4 linked regions of the Homo sapiens genome follow. The protein of the gene in region 1 purifies or fractionates together with the protein of each later gene. This does not show direct contact. Each region holds a gene or a part of one and is shown in the gene's direction. Other genes may lie near its edges.

Evidence for each region.
Region 2: the proteins of PLOD1 (region 1) and P3H3 purify together in Homo sapiens (affinity purification with mass spectrometry; 2 studies listed by BioGRID and IntAct, with this or other methods). This does not show direct contact.
Region 3: the proteins of PLOD1 (region 1) and HNRNPH1 purify together in Homo sapiens (affinity purification with mass spectrometry; 3 studies listed by BioGRID and IntAct, with this or other methods). This does not show direct contact.
Region 4: the proteins of PLOD1 (region 1) and FOXA1 purify together in Homo sapiens (affinity purification with mass spectrometry; 3 studies listed by BioGRID and IntAct, with this or other methods). This does not show direct contact.

Annotation. Positions count from the first base shown.
Region 1 is NC_000001.11:11,958,710-11,965,730, forward strand, and holds part of PLOD1 (procollagen-lysine,2-oxoglutarate 5-dioxygenase 1 isoform 2 precursor), read left to right. Parts: intron 1-1,936; coding exon 1,937-2,058; intron 2,059-4,822; coding exon 4,823-4,927; intron 4,928-5,465; coding exon 5,466-5,591; intron 5,592-5,934; coding exon 5,935-6,076; intron 6,077-6,770; coding exon 6,771-6,884; intron 6,885-7,021. UniProt on the Homo sapiens protein: Part of a complex composed of PLOD1, P3H3 and P3H4 that catalyzes hydroxylation of lysine residues in collagen alpha chains and is required for normal assembly and cross-linkling of collagen fibrils.
Region 2 is NC_000012.12:6,824,183-6,831,415, forward strand, and holds the start of P3H3 (prolyl 3-hydroxylase 3 precursor), read left to right. Parts: upstream 1-4,224; 5' UTR 4,225-4,258; coding exon 4,259-4,756; intron 4,757-5,676; coding exon 5,677-5,829; intron 5,830-6,170; coding exon 6,171-6,372; intron 6,373-6,456; coding exon 6,457-6,588; intron 6,589-7,033; coding exon 7,034-7,170; intron 7,171-7,233. Other genes in the region: GPR162 (probable G-protein coupled receptor 162), read left to right, coding at 1-583, 1,302-1,491, 2,014-2,171, 2,471-3,022. UniProt on the Homo sapiens protein: Part of a complex composed of PLOD1, P3H3 and P3H4 that catalyzes hydroxylation of lysine residues in collagen alpha chains and is required for normal assembly and cross-linkling of collagen fibrils.
Region 3 is NC_000005.10:179,613,671-179,620,685, reverse strand, and holds the end of HNRNPH1 (heterogeneous nuclear ribonucleoprotein H), read left to right. Parts: intron 1-1,278; coding exon 1,279-1,417; intron 1,418-2,362; coding exon 2,363-2,541; intron 2,542-2,625; coding exon 2,626-2,697; intron 2,698-2,753; coding exon 2,754-2,887; intron 2,888-3,036; coding exon 3,037-3,172; intron 3,173-3,575; coding exon 3,576-3,635; coding exon of another isoform or gene 3,636-3,665; intron 3,666-3,727; coding exon 3,728-3,817; coding exon of another isoform or gene 3,818-3,826; intron 3,827-4,467; coding exon 4,468-4,560; intron 4,561-5,090; coding exon 5,091-5,140; intron 5,141-5,726; coding exon of another isoform or gene 5,727-5,845; 3' UTR 5,846-6,508; downstream 6,509-7,015. UniProt on the Homo sapiens protein: This protein is a component of the heterogeneous nuclear ribonucleoprotein (hnRNP) complexes which provide the substrate for the processing events that pre-mRNAs undergo before becoming functional, translatable mRNAs in the cytoplasm.
Region 4 is NC_000014.9:37,592,250-37,599,688, reverse strand, and holds the start of FOXA1 (hepatocyte nuclear factor 3-alpha), read left to right. Parts: upstream 1-4,439; 5' UTR 4,440-4,716; coding exon 4,717-4,788; intron 4,789-6,977; coding exon 6,978-7,439. UniProt on the Homo sapiens protein: Transcription factor that is involved in embryonic development, establishment of tissue-specific gene expression and regulation of gene expression in differentiated tissues.

The DNA of each region.
Region 1 (7,021 bases):
GTAGCCCGAGACCTCTGAGGGTCTCACCGAATCTAGCTTATCTGGGCCAAATGACAATCACCAGTGGACTGTGTCCCCAAATCACTGAGTTAACTTTGGAGTCAGACTGGGTGAGTTTGAATCCCAGCGCCGCTATTTTATTGGCTGTGTGACCTTGGGCACATTACTCAACCTCTCTGTGCTTTAGTTTCTCATCTATAAAATAGGCATAAAAGTCGGGCGCGGTGGCTCATGCCTGTAATCCCAGCACTTTGGGAGGCCCAGGTGGGCAGATTATCTGAGGTCGGGAGTTCGAGACTAGCCTGACCAACATGGTGAAACCCTGCCTCTACTAAAAATACAAAATTAAGCTGGGTGTGGTGGCAGATGCCTGTAATCCCAGCTACTCAGGAGGCTGAGGCAGGAGAATCGCTTGAACCTGGGAGGCAGAGGTTGCAGTGAGCCGAGATTGCGCCATTGCACTCCAGCCTGGACAACAAGAGCAAAACTCCGTCTCAAAAAAAATAAAAATAAATAAATAAATAAATAAAATAAAATAGGGATAATAATTGTGCAATCACACAGAATTGCTGCAAGGGCTAAGCAAGCTGACATGCGAAGTTCGTAAAAGGTGCCTGGTGCACAGGACGCATCTAGTTGCTTCTAACTGTTGTCATCTTCACTTCCATCCCTGTCACTGTTAATCCTTCCTACCTTCCTAATTGTACCTGGTGGCAGTCAAATTGGTTTTCTTTTCTTTTTTTTTTTTTTTGAGACAGAGTCTCGCTGTGTCACCCAGGCTGGAGTGCAGTGGCACGATCTCGGCTCACTGCAACCTCTGCCTCTTGGGTTCAAGCGATTCTCCTGCCTCAGCCTCCCAAGTAACTGAGACTACAGGCATGCGCCATCACAACTGGCTAATTTTTTGTATTTTTTTTTTTTTTTTTGAGACGGAGTCTTGCTCTGTTGCCCAGGCTGGAGTGCAATGGCGTGATCTCAGCTCAGTGCAACCTCTGCCTCCCAGGTTCAAGCCATTCTCCTGCCTCAGCCTCCCGAGTAGCTGGGATTACAGGCGCCTGCCACCGTGCCTGGCTAATTTTTTGTATTTTAGTAGAGATAGGGTTTCACTATGTTGGCCAGGATGGTCTCGATCTCCTGACCTCGTGATCTGCCTGCCTCCGCCTGCCAAAGTGCTGCGATTACAGCCATGAGCCACCGCACCCAGCTGGATGGTTGTTTTTCCTTTTTTTTTTTTTTTTGAGATGGAGTCTTGCTGTGTCTCCCAGGCTAGAGTGCAATGGTGCGATCTTGGCTCACTGCAACCTCCGCCTCCCAAGTTCAAGCAGTTCTCTGCCTCTGCAACCTCCGCCTCCCGGGTTCAAGCAGTTCTCTGCCTCAGCCTCCTCCCGAGTACCTGGAATTACAAGTGCCTGCCACCATGCCCGGCTAATTTTTGTATTTTTAGTAGAGACGTGGTTTCACCATCTTGGCCAGGCTAGTCTTGAACTCCTGACCTGGTGATCTACCCGCCTCGGCCTCCCAAAGTGCTGCGAATACAGGCGTGAGCCACTGTGCCTGGCCTGGACTGTTGTTTTTCAAAGCGAAGTTGAGGATCACCTGGCACATTTTGTAACAAAGTGGATCTCTGGGCCACACCCAGGAATCAACAATGTCTCTGGATGTGGGATCCTGAGCGTGGTGGCGGAGCTCTATCCTGATGACAGAGGCTCTTAGGAGGCCTGACCTGGTCAGAGGAGAATGGGCAAAGGATGGCCAGGGAAGGGTGTTCCTGGCACAGGGCTGGCATGGGCAAAGGTCTGGAGACAGGAAAGCAGATGGCCGGGGTGCCAGAGATGAAGGGGCACAGCCTGGCAGTGACAGGAGGTGCTACAGTCCCTGGGTGGAAGCTGTGTCCTCCTCCTCACCCCCGCATCCCCTTCCCCATCCCCAACCCCAGGAGCAGCACCACAAGGCTCAGGTGGAAGAGTTCCTGGCACAGCATGGCAGCGAGTACCAGTCTGTGAAGCTGGTGGGCCCTGAGGTGCGGATGGCGAATGCAGATGCCAGGAACATGGGCGCGTGAGTTGTGGGCCACAGTACTCTCCACTGACAGTGGGGGCAGGGGAGCTGTGGCTGTGGTAAGGAGCAGCAGGCTGAGTGACAGGAGTTCAGAAGGCTGTGTGTGCTCTAGCAAGTTCCTGCCCCTTTCTGGGCCTTGGAGTTTCCATCTGTCAAAAGGGGAAATAGCCTCTGTCCTGCCAACCCCCGGGGCTCCTGGGCAGGGCTGAGCCATGTTATTTGGGTTCAGGAAGCAAATCAGAGAAAGAGGAAGGACTGGGGGCAAAAGTAGACAAAGGCTGACTATTAGGGAGCCAACCTTGAATGTTTTACTTTATTATATATAAAAAAAAAAGGCCGAGAGCAGTGGCTCATGCCTGTAATCCCTGCACTTTGAGAGGCCAAAGTTGAAGGATTGCTTGAGGCCAGGAGTTCAAGAGCAGCCTGGGCAACATAGCGAGACCCTATCTCTTCAAAAATTAAAAAAAAATAGCCAAGTGTGGTGGCTTGAACCTGGGGTCCCAGCTACTGAAGAAGCTGAGGCAGGAGGACCTCTTGAGCCCGGGAAGTCGAGGTTGCATGAGCTATGATTGCACCACTGTGTTCCAGCCTGGGAAACAGAGCGAGACCTTGTCTCATAAAGCAAAACAAAAACAAAGAAAGAAGTAATTTGTGTTGCTTGTAGAAGAGTCAGACAGTCCAGATCAAAGGTTGGCAAACTTCCTGCTAAGGATTAGATCATAAATCTTTGCAAATTGGCTCTGCCGGCTCTGTGACAACCCTCAGCTCTGCCCTAGTAGCACAGAGGCTGCATTCCAGCAAAATTTCATTTATGGACACTGAAATTTGACTTTCATGTCATTTATTTTTTTTTCTTTTTGAGACTTGGTGTCACTCTTGTCATCCAGGCTGGAGTGCAGTGGCAGGATCATAGCTTACTGTAGCCTCAAACCCCTGGGTTCAAGTGATCCTCCTGCCTCAGCCCCCCAAGAAGCTGGGACTACAGGCATGTGCCATCACATCCAGTTAATTTTTAAATATTTATTTATTTATTTATTTAGAGACTGAGTCTCACTCCGTCACTCAGGCTGGAGCGCAGTGGCGCGATCTCGGCTCACTGCAACCTCCCCGTCCCAGGTTCAAGCCATTCTCTTGCCTCAGCCTCTCAAGTAGATGGGATTACAGGTGCTTGCCACCACACCTGGCTAATTTTTGTATTTTTAGTAGAGACGAGGTTTCACCATGTTTTCCAGGCCTGTCTCAAGCTCCCGAACTCAAGTGATCCGCCCGCCTTGGCCTCCCTAAGTGCTGGGATTACAGGTGTGAGCCACTGCGCCTGGTTAATTTATTTATTTTTATTTTTTGTAGAGACAGGATCTTGCTATGTTGCCCAGGCTGGTCTCAAACTCCTGGCTTGAAGTTATCCTCCCGTCTCAGCCTCCCAGAGTGCTGGGATTACAGGCATGAGCCACTGCACCTGGTGATGACCTTCACATAATTTTTACATCTTCTTTTGATTTTTGTTTTCTTTTTTTTTTTTTTTTTTTTGAGATGGAGTCTCGCTCTGTCACCCAGGCTGGAGTGCAATGGTGCAATATTGGCTCACTGCAAGCTCTGCCTCCCACGTTCACGCCATTCTCCTGTCTTAGCCTCCCGAGTAGCTGTGACTACAGGTGCCCACCACCATGCCCGGCTAATTTTTTGTATTTTTAGTAGAGACGGGGTTTCACCGTGTTAGCCAGGATGGTCTCGATCTCCTGACCTCGTGATCCATCCACCTCAGCCTCCCAAAGTGCTGGGATTACAGGCGTGAGCCACCACGCCCTGCCGATTTGTTTTTTTCTTGAAACAACTTAAAAACATAAAATCAGCCAAGTGCAGTGGCTGTAATCCCAGCACTTTGGGAGGCCAAGGATTGCTTGAGCTGGGGAAGTTGAGGCTGCAGTGAGCTATGATTGTGCATTCCAGCTTGGCTGACACAGTGAGACCCCCATCTCTAAAAAAGGAAAAAAGGCCGGGTGCAGTGGCTCGCATCTGTAATCCCAGCACTTTGGGAGGCCGAGGCGGGCAGATCACCTGAAGTCAGGAGTTCGAGACCAGCCTGGCCAACATGGTAAAACCCTGTCTCTACTAAAAATACAAAAATTAGCCTGGCATGGTGGTGCACGCCTCTAATCCCAGCTACTTGGGAGGCAGAGGCAGGAGAATCGCTTGAACCCGGGAGGTGGAGGTTGCAGTGAGCTGAGATTGTGCCATTGCATTCCAGCCTGGGCAACAGAGTGAGACTCGTTCTCAAAAAAATAAAATAAAATAAAAATAAAAAAAAGAAAAACATAAAGCTGTTCTTAGCCCATGAGCTGTACAAAACCAGGCAGGGCCAGAGTTTGACTCACAGACCCTCGTTTGCTGAGTCCTGTACCAGATAAACAAAAGTAACACAGATTTTTAAGGCTTTTGGTACAAGTTACCAAATTGCATTTCAGAAAGGCAGCCCCAGCTTACTCCCCACCCTGGGCCATGTAGGCACCTGTGGGCTGTGTTCTTCCCAGTACCAGGATTTTCAGGGCACTTGATACCAGTTGCCAACCTCTGGGCCTTGGGTGAGAGAGCCCAGCAGTCCAGGGGTTTGGGACTCAGAGTCGGGAGGAACCTTTGAGGCTGCTGGTGTGACCTCTCTAAAGCCCCTTGGCTGATATGTGGTGAAGCCAGACTGTGGTCACAGATGTGAGCAGCCACCAGTAGCTCCAGGATCAGGTGCACTGACCCTGTGTCCTCCTCCTTGCAGAGACCTGTGCCGGCAGGACCGCAGCTGCACCTACTACTTCAGCGTGGATGCTGACGTGGCCCTGACCGAGCCCAACAGCCTGCGGCTGCTGATCCAACAGAACAAGTGAGGCTGCTCCGTCTGCACCCAGCACTGCTCAGGACTGGCCTGGTCCTGGGGTGGCAGCCCTCCTTGCCTTCCTCCTCCTCCTCCTCATCCACCTCCTCTTCCTCCTCTTTTTCCTTCTCCTGCTCCTCTTTCTCCTCCTCGTCTTCCTCCTTGTCTTCCTCCTCCTCTTCCTCTTCCTCCTCTTCCTCCTTTTTCCTCCTCCTCCTCGTCTTCCTCATCCTCTTTCTCCTCCTCCTCTTCCTCCTCCTCCTTGGCCTCACCTATTACCCAGAGCTGTGGATCCCCAGCCTGATACCCCAGGTTCTGATAGAGAAGGTGTCCTGCCCTGTCTGCTCCTGGCTGCCCCATGGGAGGGAGCAGGTACCAGAAGAGCCAAACCCCCGACACCCCGGCCAAGGCACTGCCTGTCTCAGTGAGGTGCTTGGGGATCCCTGCGTGCAGGTTGAGGGGCACCTACCTCCCCCCATCCCTGGTTAGTGCTGTCTCCTACTCCCAGTGGGCAGCGACCTCCTACTGAGGTGCTCCCTTCCCTCAGGAACGTCATTGCCCCGCTGATGACCCGGCATGGGAGGCTGTGGTCGAACTTCTGGGGGGCTCTCAGTGCAGATGGCTACTATGCCCGTTCCGAGGACTACGTGGACATTGTGCAGGGGCGGCGTGTGTGAGTACCTGCAGGGTGGGGGTGGGTGGGGGACACCTTCATCTGGCTTCTGCCTGGGCTTGTGGGGCTCCCTCCCTATTATTCCTGTTCTTGTTACCCTCAAATTCCTGTTGAACCTGAAGCAAGGAAGACTTCAGTTAGACACACAGAAGGACTTCCTGACAAATAGGCCCATGTGTCCAGGGCGGGGGAATCAAATCAGCACAATTGTGCCCCCCTAGCCTGTGACTTCCCTTCTCACACCCAGACTCCAGGCTATGACTCCCCACCACCACCCTGTGACCCCCTCCATCTTCCCCACCACCAGCCTCTGACCCCCACCCGCTTTCTGTCTCTCCCACAGTGGTGTCTGGAATGTGCCCTATATTTCAAACATCTACTTGATCAAGGGCAGTGCCCTGCGGGGTGAGCTGCAGTCCTCAGATCTCTTCCACCACAGCAAGCTGGACCCCGACATGGCCTTCTGTGCCAACATCCGGCAGCAGGTCAGCCAGGAGCGGGCAGCACAGGACGCCCTCTGGATGGGGCAGGCGGGAAGGTGGGCCTCCAGCTCTGACCCTCATGGTGGGCCGCCTTGTCACCGTAGGCCTGGGAGCTCCAGAGATTCTAGCAGGGCATCTCGGAAGCCACCAGGGCCTGCTGGAGGAATGGGGGCCGTCGGGCACGAGGGCTGGTCCTCAGGGGTCTGCAGGGACCATTTTAGCTGACCTGGTTTTTATACCATCTATTTTATTTACATTTTTGGAATAGCCCAAAGAAAACGGAACTTTCCACCTAAAGGTACTCCAAGTGATGTGCCCGAGAGACACCTCACCCTGTCTCTGCGCCCCACCCCATATATTTTTGTGACTTTTTTTTTTTTTTTAAACATGCAGCAAGATGAAGTTTTCCCCTGTGACCAACATTTCAGGACCAGAACACGCTCCTTTTCTTTTACGCATTTTTTCTTTCATTCTGTGTTCAGTCCTCTGGGAAGACTTCCCTGATCACATTCTTAGTGTCAGGCCTGGGCTGGGCCCTGGGGACATAGCGGTGACTGCACTTGGTCTCTGATATTGGGAACTTCAGTTCGGCGGGTGGAGGAGGCTGCACTGTTGCCCGTCTGGGAGCGTGCAGGGGAGGGGTGAGGGCAGGGGAGGGGTGGGGGAGCGCCTCTTCCACCGGGCCTGTCCTCCCCAGGATGTGTTCATGTTCCTGACCAACCGGCACACCCTTGGCCATCTGCTCTCCCTAGACAGCTACCGCACCACCCACCTGCACAACGACCTCTGGGAGGTGTTCAGCAACCCCGAGGTGAGGCCAGGGTGGGCACATAGGGGCTGGGAGCAAAGGGGCCCAGTGATCCTGCAGTCGGAGGGACTTCCCTCTCAGAGTCTTACAACAGCCAGGACCCCTGTAGGCCACCTGCCACCCTCCCTTCACCCCAGGAG
Region 2 (7,233 bases), on another chromosome or scaffold:
CACCTACTACACCCTGGCGCTGGCCACCTGCTTCACGGTCGCCTCCCTCTCCTACCATCGCATGTGGATGGTGCGCTGGCCCGTCAACTACCGCCTCAGCAACGCCAAGAAGCAGGCACTGCATGCCGTCATGGGCATCTGGATGGTCAGCTTCATCCTCTCCACACTGCCCTCCATTGGCTGGCACAACAACGGCGAGCGCTACTATGCCCGCGGCTGCCAGTTCATAGTCTCCAAGATCGGCCTCGGCTTTGGCGTTTGCTTCAGCCTCTTGCTACTTGGGGGAATTGTCATGGGTCTGGTCTGTGTGGCCATCACCTTCTACCAGACACTGTGGGCCCGGCCCCGGAGGGCTCGGCAGGCCCGGAGAGTGGGGGGTGGTGGGGGGACCAAAGCGGGTGGGCCAGGGGCCTTGGGTACCCGGCCAGCTTTTGAGGTACCAGCCATTGTGGTGGAGGATGCCCGAGGGAAGCGGCGGTCCTCGCTGGATGGCTCGGAGTCTGCCAAGACATCCCTGCAGGTCACCAACTTGGTCAGCGCCATCGTCTTTCTCTATGACTCACTCACAGGGGTGCCCATCTTGGTGAGATCGGGGTCCTCCCCACCTGTTCTCCCCAATATCCAGGCCCCAGCATCATCACCTGACCTCCAACTTCATCAGCCATACAGCAGCTCCGTCATCTCTCCTCCAGTTCCATCATCCATCTTCCTCTCCTCTGTCCATCCCCCACTCCATTTGTGGCCCCCATCTTGATCATCTGTCTTTTAGTTCCCACTACCCTGTTTACCCCAGCTCCAGCATCTGCTTCAGTTCCCACTCCTCAGCTCCATCACCGTCCTTCAGTTCCACGACCTGTCCTCCAGCTCCGTCATCCATCCTGCAGCTCCACGGTTCAGCCGCAGACCTCTCATCCAGCCGCTGGGCTCCACTCTCCATTCCCTCCTTCCCTCGGGCTGCCACATGGTCTCTGAGCACTCTTGGCTGGAAATCCCACAGGGCTCACCCCACCACCCCATCTAGTCACTGTTCCTGGGTTCCTGTCTGTCTCTACGGTTCCTGGTCCACCTCTGTTCCTCTCCCTCCTGACCGCAGGGCTTTGTCTCCAGCACTCTCCCCGACCTTCCTCTGAGTCAGTCCCTTCCCTCTGTTCACTCCATCTCCACCTCCGGCTTCGCCTCTGTTGGAGCACAGGGATCAGGCATTACTTCTGACGTCTTGCCCACCAGCTGCACTAGGATATGGGGTTCAGGTGGGCTCCTCAGCTCTGGCCCTGACCCAGCCCGCTCCCACCCTTCCCCAGGTGGTGAGCTTCTTCTCCCTCAAGTCGGACTCGGCGCCCCCCTGGATGGTGCTGGCTGTGCTGTGGTGCTCCATGGCACAGACGCTGCTGCTGCCCTCCTTCATCTGGTCCTGCGAGCGCTACCGCGCCGACGTGCGCACAGTGTGGGAGCAATGCGTGGCCATCATGTCTGAGGAGGATGGAGATGACGGTCAGAGGAGGGGCTGGGCTTTGGCTTTCCTGGACATCTGTCTATTCCCTTTTCTGCCGCTCCTTCTCAGCCAGAGGATGGGCTGCCCTGGAGTGCCCCCTACTGGACAGAATCTGCACCACCCTGGGCTCCCCTTTCCCTAAGCAGGCACCCTGCTGTCCACTCACTGCTTCCCGCAGCACTCAGGGCTCCCTTCACTGGGCCTAGGCTCCCCTCCAGAAACCCACACTGCCCAGCTCTGGCACTATGGGGAACCTGAGCTTCCCGAGAGAGGCCCCCCAGCTATAGGGACGGCTCTTGGGGGAGTGCAGGCAATTGTTTCAATAACTTCATCTATATGTATGAAGCACTCCACTCAGGATTTAGCACTGAACGCAGCAAATGCTAGCCACTCTCACTGTCCTCTTGGAACATACATGCTAATGGGAACTAAAGGGGTCTCTGGGAGCTTATAAAGGCAGTGGTGGGAGGCCGCGGTAGGCATTCCCTACCTGTAACCACTCTGCCCATTTTCTCTCCTAGATGGGGGCTGTGACGACTATGCAGAGGGCCGAGTTTGCAAAGTTCGCTTTGATGCTAACGGAGCCACAGGACCAGGGAGCCGGGACCCCGCCCAGGTGAAGCTGCTGCCTGGAAGGCACATGCTCTTCCCTCCTCTTGAGAGAGTCCACTACTTACAGGTATGGAACTGGGGGATACATCTCCTACCCTTGGTGCCGCTCATCACTTTTCTCCAGTGTCTGTTAGGCACCCCAATCCCCTCTTCCCTAGCCCTGGCTTTCAGGGCACCATAGAGCTGGGTGAAAGAAAGCTATAGCAAGAGAGGCATCCCTTCAGACCTCGTGGGGCCAGGTTTGCCCACCGGAGCAAACGTTTTGAAGGTTAAGAAGGTGGCACCATCTTCCGGAGTCCCCACTTGGTTCCTGCCTCTGCCTCTGTCCCTGCAGCACCTTCAGGTCTTACCCGCTCCTCTTCCCAGGTCCCCCTATCCCGGCGTCTGTCCCATGATGAGACAAACATCTTCTCTACCCCTCGGGAACCAGGCTCCTTCCTGCACAAGTGGTCATCCTCTGATGACATCCGGGTCCTCCCAGCCCAGAGCCGGGCCCTCGGGGGTCCTCCTGAGTACCTGGGACAAAGACACAGGTTGGAGGACGAGGAGGACGAGGAAGAGGCTGAAGGTGGGGGGCTGGCCAGCCTTCGCCAATTCTTGGAGAGTGGGGTTCTGGGGTCAGGTGGGGGACCCCCACGGGGTCCTGGCTTCTTCCGGGAGGAGATCACCACCTTCATCGATGAGACACCTCTGCCTTCTCCGACTGCCTCACCAGGGCACTCTCCTCGTCGGCCCCGGCCACTGGGCCTCTCACCCCGCCGACTCTCCCTTGGGTCCCCTGAGAGCAGAGCCGTTGGACTTCCTTTGGGACTAAGCGCAGGGAGACGCTGCTCCCTGACGGGGGGTGAAGAAAGTGCAAGGGCTTGGGGAGGATCCTGGGGCCCAGGCAACCCCATCTTTCCCCAGCTGACCCTGTGAGCCCAAGCAGGCCTGCTGAACTCAGAGGAGAAAGCCTGAGTGAGTAACACCTCATTCTGGCCGAGAGTAGGGCAGCTGCCTCCAGACTCTGGGGAGACGGGCGCTAGATTTGGGGCTCAGAAGGCCCTGCTCTCTCCCATCCAAGTGACCAGATGCCCTACTCAGCTTCCATCACCCCTAGCAATATGTATTAAAGTCTGAAGTGTTGCCATGGAAACCTCAGTGTCCAGTGTACTGCGGTGGAAAGGGGCTTGGAGGGTGGAGTGGCTCACAGGGGACACGACAGAGCAGGGGCAGCAGACAGAGGCACAGAAGGACACATGGAGAAATGATCACATGCTCCACCAGGCAGCCTCGCACAGGGAAGGCTGGGAGGAGCATATCCTGCTGGGGGCGGGGCTTGAGGACACACATCTTCGTTGGTTGGGGTATGAAGGATCTCTGTTCAGATTTGTTGAGGTGGTTTTAGAGCGTGGCTCCAGCCCCAGTGCCCAACTCTCCTTCTAACCTCAAATCCATGCAGGGGCTCACTTTATGGGCAGGAAAGGTTTTGGGGCTGATGCAGTGTCCCGGGCCTGGACACCTCCTCCTTGCTGCATTTTAAAGCTCTTTCTCCAAAGGAGTGCAGGGGTGGATGAGTGTGTGTGTGGGCGGGGGTGGGAGTGCAGGGGTGGATGAGTGTGTGTGTGGGGGAGTGCAGGGGTGGATGAGTGTGTGGGGGGGGTGGGAGTGCAGGGGTGGATGAGTGTGGGGGGGTGGGAGTGCAGGGGTGGATGAGTGTGGGGGGGTGGGGGGGGGCGAGGGGGGGATCGGCGTCCACACTCCTTTTTCTGGACCCAGAAGCGTGTGTGTGGAGGGAACACAGCCCCAGTAGTTACCCCCAGACCTCAGGGGCTGAAGTCACCGCTGGGGCTGAAGTCATCCTTCATGGATGCCCAGGCCTGCTCCAGTTCCCGCCTTTTGCCCTCCTCCTCCCAGTTTCTCCCTCTTATTCCACACTAGACCAGCTTTGTCCACTCAGCACTCTTCTCTCTCCATCTTTTCACATGGGCCTCTCCCACCATCGGGTCTCAGCCCCATCTTCTCTCTCTCTCTCTCTCTCGGCCTCCCTCATTATTTCTCCCTCTCCCTCCGCCTCTCCATCTCTCCTTCCTCCCCCTCCCTCCCCTTCCCCCCTTTCCTCTCCCTCCCTCTCGGCTCCCGCATTTCCCCTCGGCTGCCGGCGGCTCCGACATCATGCTCCGGCTCCTCCGGCCGCTGCTGCTACTGCTGCTGCTGCCTCCCCCGGGGTCCCCTGAGCCCCCCGGCCTGACCCAGCTGTCCCCGGGGGCGCCCCCGCAGGCCCCCGACTTGCTCTACGCTGACGGGCTGCGCGCCTACGCGGCCGGGGCTTGGGCGCCGGCCGTGGCGCTGCTGCGGGAGGCGCTGCGGAGCCAGGCGGCGCTGGGCCGGGTGCGGCTGGATTGCGGGGCGAGCTGCGCGGCCGATCCGGGCGCCGCGCTCCCCGCCGTGCTTCTCGGGGCCCCGGAGCCCGACTCCGGGCCGGGACCCACGCAGGGGTCCTGGGAGCGACAGCTTCTCCGTGCAGCGCTCCGCCGCGCAGACTGCCTGACCCAGTGCGCAGCACGGAGGCTGGGCCCCGGGGGCGCGGCGCGGCTTCGCGTGGGGAGCGCGCTCCGGGACGCCTTCCGCCGTCGGGAGCCCTACAACTACCTGCAGAGGGCCTATTACCAGGTGGGGAGCGGGCCGGGCAGCTCCGAGGGTCCCAGCCCTCACCACGACGCTGTCCTACTTTGCGTTGCCCAGGAGTAGGCGGAATGCTGTTGCCCGGGCCCCGCACGGGGCTGGGGAGCGTACCGCGGGCCTCTGCGTAGGAGCTGGCTAAGCGACCGCGAGGACCTCTTGAGATCGCAGAGGAGCAGCCGAGGGGGAGTGCGAGCAGAATGGGAATGGGGCGGGGAGGTCGTGAGGTGGGACGGGAGCAGATCGAAGATGGAGGGACAGGGCCGCCTCTTCCTAGGAATGAAGCGGAGGCGGTGGGGGCGAAACCGGCTCTCGGACGGGAAGTGTGCGTGGGTGTGTGTGTGTGTCGGGGGTGGTGGTGAGTGTGAACCTTCGCTTGGGGCAGGAGGTAGCTTCGGAAAGGAAGGAGCAGACGGAGGCAAGGTTGGGGTCCTCCGAGGCCAGACCTCTGCGGGCGGGGAGGGGACAGCACGCCGCAGCCGCCGGTACCGCAGCAGTTGCCTACGTGGCTGGGGAAGCGGGGCGCCGGTTGTACTCACCTCAGCTCAGGGTCCTAGAGACCTGCGGGTTTTGCTGGTCGCTGAGGTCTCCCCCACTTCCCCACCTCACTTAAGCCATCACTTCCACCTGGTCTCCCAAATTGAGGTCCTGAAGTCCTGAGACCCATGTCCCACCCAACTCCGACGTCTTTAGATCCCCTTTCCCTCGGTGCCAGCCTTCTGAGAGTCCCAACGTTCTGGCCTCTAGGGGATCTGCAGTTCGGGCGGTGGGCGGTTCTGATTGGCCAGTCTTCCATGAGGCTCTGGGGCACCCAGAGTGTGTGTCTGGGGTAGGGTGGGGAGGCTGGCCAGGGGGCAGAGGTCTGCCCCCCGTCCCAGGGCTCTGATGCCCTCCTCCCTTCGCCTCCTCAGTTGAAGAAGCTGGATCTGGCAGCTGCGGCAGCACACACCTTCTTTGTAGCAAACCCCATGCACCTGCAGATGCGGGAGGACATGGCTAAGTACAGACGAATGTCGGGAGTTCGGCCCCAGAGCTTCCGGGACCTGGAGACGCCCCCACACTGGGTGAGAATCCCAGCACCACCCCTGTCTTGCCACCAGCCTTTTCCTGGCTGGATACACAGGCCTCACTAAACTGTGCGTTGTGCTGCTTGAGCATACAGATGGGGTAATGATCCTCAGCGACCCTGGCTGGGAGTCCTTCTCTAGGACTTCGTTTCCTTCCTGGATGATCACTGAAATCTGATGTTCTAACATTATGATTCTGAGGCCCACCCTTATTCTTCTCCACGGTGAAGAGGGACATGGAGTCCTTGCCCCAAATGAGACCAACACCCCTCTCCTCTCTACCTCCCAGTTTGGCAACCCCTGGATCTTAGGTGACTGACTGCTCCCTTCCCCAACAGGCAGCCTATGACACTGGCCTGGAGCTACTGGGGCGCCAGGAGGCAGGACTGGCACTGCCCAGGCTAGAGGAGGCTCTTCAGGGGAGCCTGGCCCAGATGGAGAGCTGCCGTGCTGACTGTGAGGGGCCTGAGGAGCAGCAGGGGGCTGAAGAAGAGGAGGATGGGGCTGCGAGCCAGGGGGGCCTCTATGAGGCCATTGCAGGTAAGGGTCCCGTGTGTGAGGGGGTGGGTCGGTGCCCAGGGAGGGGCATGAACAAGCTGAATGGCTTATGGGTTTCCTCTGCAGGACACTGGATTCAGGTCCTGCAGTGCCGGCAACGCTGTGTGGGGGAAACAGCCACACGCCCTGGTCGCAGCTTCCCTGTCCCAGACTTCCTTCCCAACCAGCTGAGGCGGCTACATGAGGCCCATGCTCAGGGTCAGTTGGGGAAGGGTGGAAACGGGGAGTGAAGATTTGCCTCTGCTGCTATCCTGAGCTCCATCTCTCTATCCCTCCCATCTGTCTCTGGATTTGTAGTTTCACTGTCAGGGCTGCATGGGAACCATCACTTCACAAGGACTCTAATTTGCCCTCCTTTGGCGCCTGTGACAAGCTCAGGAGATGGGCTTCCTTCTGCCTTGCTGCTTCTCACCTTCCTTTATTTTCCCCCCTCTTGCTCTTCTTTGAACTCTCCAGCTAAGGTATGTTTGCACCAGTGTTTGAAAGAACCGGCAGCTGAACTTGTCTGCCAGTGGGAAGGGGGCTCTTGGAGTTAGCTGTCTGGCCTCTGGAGACCACCTTCTCCAGCACTGCCTCTGCCCCAAGGATCAATGTGCTCTAAGTATTCATCCCCCAACCCCTGACCTTGTCGCTCCCTCTCCAGTGGGCAATCTGTCCCAGGCTATAGAAAATGTCCTGAGTGTCCTGCTCTTCTACCCGGAGGATGAGGCTGCCAAGAGGGCTCTGAACCAGTACCAGGCCCAGCTGGGAGAGCCGAGACCTGGCCTCGGACCCAGAGAGGTAATCCCCTCTCCACGCTCACCTGGGAGGTAGCCCCAAATCAAACAAATAGACCTGAGAAGT
Region 3 (7,015 bases), on another chromosome or scaffold:
TATTTAGTATTATAGTTCAGAGTAGATCTTTCATTGAGGATTGCCCTCAACAGCTTAACTACTTTCCTCACATTGGTGTCCAGCTAAGTACCTCAAGTTAAAGGTAAGATCCCTTTACCAGCAGATCATCAGTGCGATGAATTAGGTTGTTGTAAATTATGGCAAGTGTCTGTGTTGCAAGAGACACGTATTTGGGTCATGTGACCAGAAGCATCTAATGGTCTAATTCTCTTTAATGCAAAAGTCGGTTTATGAAAGACTTGGTTTAACCTGTGTGGTATAAACTTACTGAAAATCAGATGTAGTGAGAGTAGTTTGAATGCTTGTAGTCTCAGTATCTGAAATAAGTGTTTTGAAATTGTTCCTGGGCCTAAAGTATTTGAATGTTTTTATGCTGAAGAGCTGATAAGATTGCATGTTTAACAATGTTAGATAAGATATCGTATATTTTAAGTATTAATATTTATGATGTGATACGCTGGAAGCAGGAAATCCTTTCATGGTTTAGTGTAGTATGTTAAAAATTGATATATGTATCGAGTCCTAATGTCAGAATTTTTAAAATCAAGTCTGTTTTGTTTTGACACTAAATTGGTGAGAATTGAATGCTGTCAACGTTAAATATGAACATAATTTCATATCTTCTAGGAAAGTGCTTTAAGTCCTTTTTGTAAGCTTGGGAATGTATCCACGGAAAGGATTTTTCATAGACGGAATTTCCAGAAGTGAATCATAACTACTGTTAGAGCATAAGCATGCATGATTGTGCTGTGTAGATCAGTTTTGTTGAAAGTTTAGATTGTTGTGTTTGTCAATTATAATTTAATGTTTCAGTTTTTATATGAAATGTTGTAAATGTATACCTTTTTAAAAACTTGAAGTTCCAATAACTTAAAGCATTGAAATATAAAATGAGGTAAAAGGTGTTTTGAATTTAGTAAAACTGTTATTTAATGCTTAAAACTTAATTGAATTGTATAATTCTCAACATTAAGTTGCATAGATATGTGTTCTTAAGTTGTTGAATTCTTAATGCATCCTGTGTTCAGCAAGTTTTTTTTAATATATACTGTACCATGGGTGTGTTAAGAATAGTTATACTTTATAATAATGGAACTTCATATTATTGCAATGCATATTTAAAGAGTACTTGTTGAAAGCATACCATTCACCTAAAGTTAAAAATTCTGGTTTATTTAAAGCTATAAGAAGAATCATTTCTGGGCTTGTGATGTTAATATTGCCCCCCTACTGGGGTTATTTGTCCTTGGGTTGAAGGGTTGGAAATCGTGCCAAATGGGATAACATTGCCGGTGGACTTCCAGGGGAGGAGTACGGGGGAGGCCTTCGTGCAGTTTGCTTCACAGGAAATAGCTGAAAAGGCTCTAAAGAAACACAAGGAAAGAATAGGGCACAGGTGGGGATGGATGGTTGGTTGGATATGTCACTTTTCTTATGGTAAACAATTAAATCCATATTCTCTCTGCTTAAAAGAAGAAATTAATGTTTTGTAGTCCTAGGTAATTGATGTTTTGCCATGATTTCCAAACTTGTGTCAGTCCCACGTTACACGCAAACTAAATTTTAGGTTTGAAATTTGTCCCTAGTTAATTGGTCTGCTTGACAATTTTGTGAGTCTTATTAACCCCAATCAATAGAGTTGAGAGACTATGGCTTTAAAAAATTAATGCAAACCTGGCTTTAGCTGTAATAACACCCACCTAGAATAAATTAATATTACCATAAGAAAATGTGATACTTTCTGATCTTGTTTTTAAAGTTGAAATGCAACAAACTTTTTCTTGCTGTATATAAATATTCTGCATAGTATTAATAAGCATAGCTTTCAAGAAATTGTCACAAAAGGTTTTATTCTCTTTGCTTGTGACTATTTTTCATTGAAGCATGCGCTTACCTATGCTGATTCTTACTAAAAGCATAGGCTGGGGTATTTATTGGCGAAAGGAAATGTGTAGTGTGGGCTGGACTGTTGGTGGAGGCTGGCTTTTTAGCCCACTTGCTATACATGCTGCCAATGGATTTAAGACTTGAAATGTTGAAAGTTGAGTGGAATTATTTCCCTCCTAAAACATTTATTTACAGTACTCCTCTCTACCCCTAAGGTTGGGCTCTGCCTCAGAGGAGTGAGTTTTTTTTTTTTTTCTATAAAGTTTACATTGTCTTACTATTTATTGAGTGAATTTCTGGTCATTGCCTATGCAAATATAAGAAATCTGGCTTTAAATATTAGTCAGTTTCATGGCTATGACTAGATTGTTTTCTTGTATAACTAAATACCTGTATAAAATGAACTAATGTTTTCTCTCCCCTCCCTACCCCTTCCTTATGAACAATGCTTTAGGTATATTGAAATCTTTAAGAGCAGTAGAGCTGAAGTTAGAACTCATTATGATCCACCACGAAAGCTTATGGCCATGCAGCGGCCAGGTCCTTATGACAGACCTGGGGCTGGTAGAGGGTATAACAGCATTGGCAGAGGAGCTGGCTTTGAGAGGATGAGGCGTGGTGCTTATGGTGGAGGTACGTGAGGATTCGTAAGGTTCGGCAAGTCGTCTGTTCCTTTGTCTAGGTGTTTTATTTGATTGATTGTACTTTGTCTTTCAGGCTATGGAGGCTATGATGATTACAATGGCTATAATGATGGCTATGGATTTGGGTCAGATAGATTTGGAAGAGGTAAGGTAAGAATTGAATTTCTCAGTTGAAGGATGCTTACACTCTTGTCCATCTAGACCTCAATTACTGTTTTTCAGGAATGTCTGATCACAGATACGGGGATGGTGGCTCTACTTTCCAGAGCACAACAGGACACTGTGTACACATGCGGGGATTACCTTACAGAGCTACTGAGAATGACATTTATAATGTAAGTGTGAGATGAACTCACAAGTCAATATTTCAGTATGGCAGTAAGTCAGCCTTATTCTATAAATGTGAGCACTATGTTAGAAATTTTAGGTTTTTTTTGTAACGTTAGAAAGTTGGTTGAATTCTTTGAAATGCCTTGTGTTGTAGTTTTTTTCACCGCTCAACCCTGTGAGAGTACACATTGAAATTGGTCCTGATGGCAGAGTAACTGGTGAAGCAGATGTCGAGTTCGCAACTCATGAAGATGCTGTGGCAGCTATGTCAAAAGACAAAGCAAATATGCGTAAGTGTGATTGAGCATTTGTGGGCTCTTAACAGGTGATTGTGTGACTAACATTTACAATAGAGAAATGGAAAAATAAGGATATATGAGAAGTTTCCTCTCCAGTAATAGATTAATTCTTGGGGGATGCGGGGGCAGTGTGTTGAAGGTTTGGGTTTTAAAAATTAGTATAACGGATTTGTGATATGCACATCTTGAAGTGTATATCCTTAATTGACAATACAGATGAATATGTAAAGGCTAGATTTTGGAGTTAAAGTAGATCACCTAAGAGAAGTAGCTAGAATTTCTTTGCCAAAGTATTTGAAGTTCACAGATCTGCTTGTTTAAAAACTTTATAAAAGTGCTTATTCTGTTTTGTTTCACCAACAAACATTTTCAAACTTTTTTTTTCTCATTTCAGAACACAGATATGTAGAACTCTTCTTGAATTCTACAGCAGGAGCAAGCGGTGGTGCTTACGGTAGCCAAATGCTAGGAGGCATGGGTTTGTGTAAATATCACTTTAGTGTCTTTTTTTTAAGCTAACCTTGTATGCCTTTTCTCTCATTTCAGAACACAGATATGTAGAACTCTTCTTGAATTCTACAGCAGGAGCAAGCGGTGGTGCTTATGGTAGCCAAATGATGGGAGGCATGGGCTTGTGTAAATATCGTTAGTTTTTTTAAAAACCAAAACGTTTATATCTGTATAAGTCAATTATAAGTTAAGTTAATCTATTTATTTAATAAGTTTAGCATAAGAAACTTAGGCAAAGCAGTTTCTTGATATTTGAGTTTTGTATCTGGCTTACTTAAATCCTTGTGAGTTATGAAGTTCCTTAGGATAGATAATTCAAATTAGGTTTAAGTAGTCTTGGGGGAGGGGACTACGGAGTGAAACTACTTAAATTTTCTAAGTATAAAGTTTAAATCAATAGCAAAACAGGATTAAGATAAATGTGGGCATAATTAGGTGTATTGACATGCCTTTGATGTATCAAACTGAGGGGGAACCCACTAAATCCAGTCAAGCAGTTTCATAAGATCTTCACAAAATGCCTCTACTTACGGAATCATGTTGATTTTAGTCCTGCTGATGTGTGTACCGTTAGCACTTTGGTTTATCAATATTTGACTGGCTCAAATGATGGATAGAAGGGTGGCCTGGTTATAGACAGTAGGCAGAAGGAGGCAGAGGGTTACAGTAATGTAAGATCAAGACTGGAAAATGATAGCTATAGAATTACAAGCCCGGTACCACCAGGTACCACATCACATAAGAAAAAAGGTTCTAATGTTTTCTTAACTTAACAGCAAACCAGTCCAGCTACGGGGGCCCAGCCAGCCAGCAGCTGAGTGGGGGTTACGGAGGCGGCTACGGTGGCCAGAGCAGCATGAGTGGATACGGTAAAGCCTGTTTGTTACTGTACTTAGAGTAAGTTATGGTAAAGCCTGTTCATTACTGTACTTAGAGTAAGTTATGGTAAAGCCTGTTACTGTACTTAGAGTAAGTCGCAGGCAGGTGCCTTTAGTTGGGAAGATGCAGGCTCCTTTCGGTGAAATTGGGTTATGAAATGTATGCTTTCAATCCAAATGTAACTGTTTTTACTAGCTAATTTTCAGAAACAATCATTGGGAGGGGGAAGTGTTCTTTGAATTAAGAACTAGTCATTGCAGCTTTGGAATACTGTCGAGCCAGAAAATATCTGCCTCCATGTATTAAAACATTAAATAAAGTTGTTCACTTTTTTGTCTTTTGGTTAGCATTAAGTCAGTTTTAGACAGAGGGAGAATTTGAAATAGTAGAATGGTGGTTGGGTTCAGGATCGTATTTATTAGTCAGTTAACCTAGGATTGGTTTTATTTATTTTTTTTCAATTGGTCTAAAGAATGGTGATTTTGGTATTATAGTCTTACCCTACAAAATCCTTTTGCAGACCAAGTTTTACAGGAAAACTCCAGTGATTTTCAATCAAACATTGCATAGGTAAATATTTTCTCAAAAAATATAAATTCCCAATAGCAAATACTGATATGTTGTAATAATGCTTTCTATAGCAGTCAATGGCTCTGACTTAACTCCATGGAGGCTGCCATTTGGGCACAGTGAGTTGCCTTTAGTCCAGCTTGGTTGTCTCACTTCCTGCCCACCATGAATAGGAAAAGCAAGAGACTTCCCCTGTGCTCCCTTTTCTCAAATGCCATTCGAGGGACACATTGTGAATGTTTATGTTAAATTTTTTTTAAAAATGCCTTGTTTAGCTTTAAAAATACGAAGTAATTTTGCAATTTTTGAAAAACACTAGTTTTCCTTTAAACTTAATTTTTCATGTTGATCCTGAAGAATCCGTTAAAATGGTAGCACAAGAGTCTGGCAAGTTGGTACTGCAGAGAAAAGGGGTTAATTGAGGCTTGTTTGGAGTCGGGATTCCCCTTTCCCAAACATGCGTCTCGCCACTTGGACAGCAGCCATTTGTACTCGTATACTTTTTAAACTTTTTCTTGGAATACTATATTTTATTTGACTGGTAGTCTGATATTACTCCTAACTTGTCAAATTGATCTCTTTGCAGGTAACCAAGGAGCAGTGAACAGCAGCTACTACAGTAGTGGAAGCCGTGCATCTATGGGCGTGAACGGAATGGGAGGGTTGTCTAGCATGTCCAGTATGAGTGGTGGATGGGGAATGTAATTGATCGATCCTGATCACTGACTCTTGGTCAACCTTTTTTTTTTTTTTTTTTTTTTCTTTAAGAAAACTTCAGTTTAACAGTTTCTGCAATACAAGCTTGTGATTTATGCTTACTCTAAGTGGAAATCAGGATTGTTATGAAGACTTAAGGCCCAGTATTTTTGAATACAATACTCATCTAGGATGTAACAGTGAAGCTGAGTAAACTATAACTGTTAAACTTAAGTTCCAGCTTTTCTCAAGTTAGTTATAGGATGTACTTAAGCAGTAAGCGTATTTAGGTAAAAGCAGTTGAATTATGTTAAATGTTGCCCTTTGCCACGTTAAATTGAACACTGTTTTGGATGCATGTTGAAAGACATGCTTTTATTTTTTTGTAAAACAATATAGGAGCTGTGTCTACTATTAAAAGTGAAACATTTTGGCATGTTTGTTAATTCTAGTTTCATTTAATAACCTGTAAGGCACGTAAGTTTAAGCTTTTTTTTTTTTTAAGTTAATGGGAAAAATTTGAGACGCAATACCAATACTTAGGATTTTGGTCTTGGTGTTTGTATGAAATTCTGAGGCCTTGATTTAAATCTTTCATTGTATTGTGATTTCCTTTTAGGTATATTGCGCTAAGTGAAACTTGTCAAATAAATCCTCCTTTTAAAAACTGCACTCTGTCTTGTCTGTGCTTCAGTGTCATGTGGACTGAGTCTTGGTGCTCTGTGCCCACCTGGGGCCTAGGGCCACATCTCTGGCTTGGCAGTTGAGGCTGTTGCGTAGATGTCTTCAGTCTTCCCTCCAGTGCAACTGAAGGTAAACTCGTCTTTGGGGCCCTGGTGGAAGGGCTGTATGTCATTTGGCTGCACAGGACCTGATCTGAACTGCCTGTAACTCATTAAGCACTTGCACAAAACAAAGGGGGAGGCGCCAGTGCCCTCACTGCATGCCTGCATGTCTTTGAGGCCTTCATGCTTGGCTGGGAAGGTGCCGGAGGCAAGGGAGGTGTGATGAATATGTGGGTTTCTTCTAGCTCATAAGCTCATAGGTTTGTTTTTTTTTTTGAGGCAGAGTTATATTCTGTTGTCTCAGGCTGGATTGCAGTGGCGTGATCTCAGCTCACCTGCAACCTCCACCTTGTGGGCTTCTGCCTCAGCCTCCCAAGTAGTTGGGGTTACAGGC
Region 4 (7,439 bases), on another chromosome or scaffold:
TTGGCAAGGCGATGCTCTCCCGTGGCCAGAGGGACGGTTTTGTCGCCCGCGGGCGAGGCCGGGTGGGGAGCAGCTCCGGCTCCGACATCCGGCTGCGGGTGAGCTAGGTCCGCGCCCGGAGCAGCTCAGAAACCCGGCGGCGCTCAGGCAGGAGTAGGGGAAAAGACAAACCCAGTGGCTGTTTTTGTTTGTTTGCTTCAATAAAATAAGTGAAAGCCCTGGGTATGTTTATGCGTTGCTTTTACACACAAAGACACACAGACACAAGCACACGCACACACAGCCGGGGTTGAGGCCCGTTACGGGTTAGGACTCTGTACAGAACTGCCTGCAAAGGCCCGTCAAGTGGTCCCAGGGCCCCTACCTACTACAGAGTTGTGAATTAATCCCTTAAAGATTTAATGATGGAACCAAGGGAGAGAGGAAGGAAGATGAGGAAGAAAAATAAAAGGAAGGCAGCGAAGGAACGGAGTTCGAACCCTGGCCAGGCCCATACTTCTCTCTCGCGGGGGACCGCAGTCTCGCGGCTCCCTGGCCCCTTCCCCAGCTCGGCGCACACATCCACCTGCGAAGGCCAGGCACACGCACGTGTGACCCCTTGTTTCCAGCGTCCCAGGCCTTCCTCACTTCTAAGCTGAGCCGTGTCCCAGTTGGGGTCGGCTTTGAACCGCGTTAACGACCACAGGTCTTAGTTTCATTGCATCCGATTCTCCCCTGCAGAAGGAGGACTTAAGCTTCTTATCTGGGTGGGGGGTGGGGGCCCGCGGAGGAACTCGAACCACTCCACACCAAGCATGGCTGGGTTGCTGAAGCCGTCACCTGACAACAACCCCGTCCAGGGAAGGGTAGGCAAGGAAAGGGGGCAGGCGAGGGACAGCCACAGAGGGAAGCCCTGGAGAGACTCGAATGGGCACCGCAGAGCCCCGCCGGCCCAGGCCCTGCTGTCTGCCAACCCTGCGGTCCTGCTAAATAGGAAGGACCCTGTCGCCGCGAGAGGCCGCCGTCTGGGCCCGGGGCCCGAGGCCCGAGGCCGCGGCCTCTCCTTCCACCTTTCGCCGTCGTCTCCCTCTGCTTCTACCTGCCTGGTGAATATCTGAGGAAGGGGCTCCCAGCCAGATCCTGCTGGGAAGTGTAAGCTGAGGCAGCCAAGCGTGGTCAAAGGACCGAGTGCCGCTCAGGTACTGCGGGACTGCGCCGGGAGCAGGCCCCACGGGTGTAGCAAGGGCAGCTTCCGGGAAGGGCGGAGCCGCTTCCTCCGCTGGCGGCTACCCGGAGTACCCGCGCACCCTACAGTCCTCACTGCCGCGGATCCCCCACTTGAGGAGCCCGCCCTCCCCGCGACCTGGACCGCCCCAAGCTGTCGCAGACCCGTCTTAAACACAGGCAAGTTTAACCCGGGACACCGCAGGAGCCGCCACGTGCCTGCCCTCGCGGGTACCCTGCCCCGAGTCCACCCATCCTCCCCACAGCTGAAGACAGGCCTGGTTTCCTCCAACGAGCAGCACAATCCTTGCAAAGCACAGTTTCCAATGGTGTAGGTGCCTATTTGGGAAAAGAGGTTGGAAAAGAGCAGGCTGCAGCCGCTGGACCTGGCTACCGACTGGCCAGCAACTCCCAGACAGCAGCATTACTTTATGTATGTATGTATGCATTTCCAAGTCAAAGACCCAACACGACCCTGCTGATTCGCTTTTAAACCTCAGGGAAAGTGACTGGCTGGCATCTGGGTACACTAGAACCTCACCTCCTAAATTTGTTAGGTATCTTGCAATGCGGCCACTGAGATGGAGAGAGGCTGGGAGCTGGACGAACGGCCATCTCTCCTTCCATCTTGGCCTCGGCTCTAAGAACCTAAATCCCTGACTGGGATGCGTGCGGAGTTCAATCCAGTATCGCCTGGCGGTGCTCCCCGGAGGCGCCTGCGGGAAAATTCAGCTTTCCCTCTCCACGACAGGAGGCGCTGTTTTCGTGGAAATCCCCCGGCTGCGAACCTGGGATCCCTGACCTGGATCAAGTCTCCGAAGCTGGCAGAGTCCATTCTGCATCACCGGTCTTGGGCTTTGAAGAAGCCTAGGAGAAATTCCGCTTCGGCCATCACGCTATGAAAAGTGGATTTTTTTTTCTTAAGTCAATTTTTTTTTTTTGAAAATATGAGACTTAGTAGGTTTGGGAAGTGGGCTAAAAGAACATTTGATATTGTAATTGACCCCCCCTTTAAGGTGACAGTGTTTTTCCCCTACTTAAAGCGCCAACTTTTTTGTGCACTATAAAAGCTATTACTATCCATAAATTGTTACTCTCGGTAGAAAATAACCTAGTCTTGCTCGGTGTTATTGAAGAGCCAAGAGGGTATTGGAGAATCACCTCCAGAAGGAACAAGGAAGCTCATTAGCACTGAAAGTCCCCCGGATCAGGCCCAGGAAGCTAAGCATCCGTATACTTTACAAATGGAACTAAAGTCAGCTACTAATGGGAACTTTGCACAAAAGAATTAGTTTCTGACACACAATTCGCAGATACATTTACACAAACTGATGGGACAACTTGCAGTCACAGGAGCAGGCTGCATTAGGGAGGGTTCCTGCCCTACTGAGTTCCAGGTGGATTTAATTTCACTCATTCCTTTCCTTATGATGTGACGTTTCTACCCCCCCACCCTTTTTGTAAAAAAAAAAAAAAAAAATGTAATCCAATGCTTTTATCTTTTTTTATTTCCTTAACTGCACATCTTCACCCTCTCTGCTCCCCTGCTGACTTAAGAGATTTGTTTGGTTCAGGGATTTAAAGTGATTCTCTTGCCAGATTTCAAGTAAAAGAGATTTAAAAGAACAAAGCACAGGGAAAAAGGTATCTGTTTGGAAGACAAGTTAAAACACATTTCTTAAAATGAGATTAATAACATTTTAAAAACTTTGCAAAACAAGAAGATTTTGCGGATTCTTAATTACTTTAGATTTTATTTTATTGTTACTTAAGGAAACCTAGTGGTTCTACAGGCAGTACAACAAACACATGGTCACAGACACTCAGAAACACACACAGTCACACATGCTCAGAAATATACAAACGGTCACACACTCAAAACACACGCACCATCTCCCAATCTATCACCAACTAATTGCCTATCACCCGGTCACTTCAGTTGTTCTCTCTCCCAGGACAAGTGGGCAACCACCACCCAGGGCCTCATGAGAGTAAAGAGACTTTGCGTTGGGAAGACTCTCCCACCGACGTCCAGGACCGATTAGGAACCAAGCGAGCCCCTGAGATCTCAGCCCGGACCCTCCGGGTCACAGACAGGACCAAGCGCCGCTGCGGGCAGTCTCGGGCTTCTGCCTGGCATCTCTTTCGCAGTGCAGATGCGTTCCCGCGCCCAGGCCCTTGCTCTCCCAGCTAACGCGCGTGTTATGGGAGATGTCCCCTCCCCCTGACCTTTTCCTATCAGAAACCAGACGGTCGTCTCCAGCTCACTCCCTGAAGCGGCTGAAGGGGGGCGGGAGGAGGAGCCCGGCAGGGGGAGGACGGCCCGACTTGGGTCCGCCTGCCCTATCACACAGACATCTGCTCTCAGTTTCTTCCTCTTTGTGGTCGCTACAGATGACAAGGGGAGAGGAGCGGACCGAGGCGGAACAAAAAAAAAAAGTTATGTCATAAAGATATAAACCGGTGCTGTGACTCACCTGCTCTTAGCCGCAGGTACGAGTTTCGTGGCAGCGCCTCCGCTCTGCTAGCCCGGGGCCCGGGTCGGCCTAACGTCACTTGGCTCGGCTGACTCAGATGACCCGGTTTCTAGTGACGAAGCAAAAGTGGGGCTTTTTCCCTTTTCTAGTCTGAAGCTCTCAGGAGGAAAGAAAAAAAAAAGTCTGTATTCTCCAGTCTCCCGGGGTTGAACTTTGGGTCAGGAATCAGGAGGGAGGAAGCAAAGAGCAGGAGGGGCGCGAGACTGGGCCGCAGCCCGCGCTCGGAAGGTGGCGTGTACCTCTGGGGAGGGACCCCGGGGTCAGTTATCCCACAAGGTCTCTAAGCCCAGTCTCCGACGCCACCGCCCCCGGCCTTCTCCGGCTGCGAGGTTCCGATCCAGAGCCCTAGCCCGCCCGCCCGCCTGGCCCCGCCTATTTTTTCTTTTTCCAAAGGGGGTTACACCCCCTCCCTCCCCATTTCCCTCTTTCCCTAGCCTCCGGGCCTAAACCAATTACACTGCTTTGCAAACAAAGTGAGGGCCCCGCTTGGGGGAGGGGTCGCGGGGGAGGGGTCGCGCGCAGCGGTGAAGCGGCGGGGCGGGAGGCGCGGCGGCCGGACTGGCGGGCGGCCGCCTTGCAGGTGCACCTCGGGCTTTGTAGGTGCGAGCGTCTTTGTGCGGCGGACAAATGGGGAGAGGACGAGGAGGTGGGCACTCAAGCGACGTAAGATCCACATCAGCTCAACTGCACTTGCCTCGCAGAGGCAGCCCGCTCACTTCCCGCGGAGGCGCTCCCCGGCGCCGCGCTCCGCGGCAGCCGCCTGCCCCCGGCGCTGCCCCCGCCCGCCGCGCCGCCGCCGCCGCCGCGCACGCCGCGCCCCGCAGCTCTGGGCTTCCTCTTCGCCCGGGTGGCGTTGGGCCCGCGCGGGCGCTCGGGTGACTGCAGCTGCTCAGCTCCCCTCCCCCGCCCCGCGCCGCGCGGCCGCCCGTCGCTTCGCACAGGGCTGGATGGTTGTATTGGGCAGGGTGGCTCCAGGATGTTAGGAACTGTGAAGATGGAAGGGCATGAAACCAGCGACTGGAACAGCTACTACGCAGACACGCAGGAGGTGAGAGGCAAGGCGAGGCGGGCGGCCGGTGGGGCGCCGCTGGAGCCCGTGCCGGGGGAGGCCGGGGAGCGGTGGGCGCCAGGCAAGGCAGGCAGGCGGGCCGGGGGCGCCTTCTCGGTGCCACCGCTGCCCGCCCGCCGGTGTGGCCCCGGCCGGGCCTTGGCCGGGCCTGGAAGCGGGACCTGCTGCCCTGCTCTGTCCCGACTCTCGCAGCCGGAGAGGGAGTTTTAGGAAACTCCGGGCTTTGAAAACAGCGGCTCTAGGAAGCGCTTGCCTCTTCCCAGCAGCGAGCGGGAGCAGGAGCCGGGCCCGGGGTGCAGCGGGCGGGCGAGCGCCGGTGCGAGTTGGAAGCAACTCTGAGAAAGCCGGAGCATACCCACAAGGCGACCTCTTCGTCCCACCGTTTAATTCGCAGACGTCTTCTGATTAAAGCGCTCTGCCGCCAAGTTGGGTGTCTCAATAATGAAACGATTTCTAAATTTTGTAAAACTTGTTCTTCAAAAGCCCTATTTGGGGAGAAGTGTGCTCCTTCTCTAAAACCGCTGGGTGGCGCTAGTGCGACCAAAATCTTCTTCACAACTCTGGGCCGAGAACCTGTTTCTCTTCATTGTCCCCTTGGTGGCACGTTCATGGGGGTTATTTTTACAATGTGCACAAAAGGATTACAGGGAAAACCAGTTACAGGGAGGACTACCACCTATTAAAAGTATTTTTCTGGAAACAGCTGGCGATTACCCTCCAAAAGTTTAATTACCATTATTGAAAACGCGTATTGGAACTGCCTTGGATAATCTTGGGAAGAGGGAAAGAAAATAAAGCCCCAAGGTAAAAAATACTTTTAAGACGTGGACAGAAAAATATAGGATCACGTAATATTTTGATGGTAACTGACTTATTTAGATTTATGTATTCACAAGTTTACCTCTGAGTTTATTTGCATACCATAGTTTACTGGGTGTTCCTATTTAAATCTATTTGTTCTCATATTTTCAAATTGAGTCATACTTGCTGATTAAAATAAACTTAAGGACATCATTATTCCTTATTAAATTACCAGAGGAGTGCTTTTTAATATGCCTAGGTTTTGTATGTTTAAAATACTGTACCTAATGCATTCCCACATCGCTATTGATAAGGATTTTCGCTTGTTGATGATTTTAAAAGGAGCTCAGAGGTCTTCCAGAGATTTAATTCTGACGCAGTCATCTCGACCCCACCATTCAATTAAGACCCCTAGCGAAAGTACTTTCTTACATGTTAAAGCTGAGAATTAGGAAATACAATAGCATTAAGAGAAAATAAGTAGAATTTGATTTTCGAATTTTAAATTATTCAAGACTACTCACGGAATCTCAAAGCCAGGCGTTGAAATCATCGGCAGCAACATCAGCATGTGAAAAAAAAAAAAGATTTATTTTGACAAACTGTGTCACCAAATTTTTCAAACAGGGGACTGTAAAGTGGTGACAAAATTAATGCGAGTTTCTAAATAGCTTGCAAAGGTGTACATGTAAAGTCATGTTAAAATAAAATGCATATAGCACTTTGAGATTATTATAGCACCCCCTCCCAGCCCTTTCTGTTATGGATCTACTTTTAGTTTTATTTTTCCAAAACTTATTTAACTCTGAGTTTGCTTCCCTTTTAACATTACAGTTGCTACAAGCAGGTAGAAAACACTACTTCTAAATACAATAAACAACAAAAAGTCACCATAGGCAAAAACCCCTAGGACAATAAAGCCACTTGTTGGGAAACAGATGATTCAGGGGGTCCCATGTCCATAGGTGATTTGCTCTATCAACGATTTCCCCCCAAAGGGCGCTTTGCCGAGGCTGGTTGGGGTGGAGACTTGGGATACCGCCTGGCGTGGATGGAGGAGGCGATGAGGGGGCCCTGGAAGCCAGCCCCTGAGCCTGGCGTGTAAGGCGATTACACATCTTCCTGGGGTCATATTTTCTGTGAGCGTTTATCTTTCATGCCTGCCGCGCTAGGATTTTCCCCCTGCCGTGCAAGACATCTTTGCTCGGTCTGGGGAGGGCGCTTAGCCATTTGCCCCGGGTGGGGGCGTCCCGTGTTCTGCAAAGTGCTCTGCACTTGCCCCCGGGTTAGGTCCCGGACGGCCGCCCTCCAGTGCCCACCACTAACCCCGCCCTCCGGGGCTTCTTCACTCGCTGTCTCCACTCCAGGCCTACTCCTCCGTCCCGGTCAGCAACATGAACTCAGGCCTGGGCTCCATGAACTCCATGAACACCTACATGACCATGAACACCATGACTACGAGCGGCAACATGACCCCGGCGTCCTTCAACATGTCCTATGCCAACCCGGGCCTAGGGGCCGGCCTGAGTCCCGGCGCAGTAGCCGGCATGCCGGGGGGCTCGGCGGGCGCCATGAACAGCATGACTGCGGCCGGCGTGACGGCCATGGGTACGGCGCTGAGCCCGAGCGGCATGGGCGCCATGGGTGCGCAGCAGGCGGCCTCCATGAATGGCCTGGGCCCCTACGCGGCCGCCATGAACCCGTGCATGAGCCCCATGGCGTACGCGCCGTCCAACCTGGGCCGCAGCCGCGCGGGCGGCGGCGGCGACGCCAAGACGTTCAAGCGCAGCTACCCGCACGCCAAGCCGCCCTACTCGTACATCTCGCTC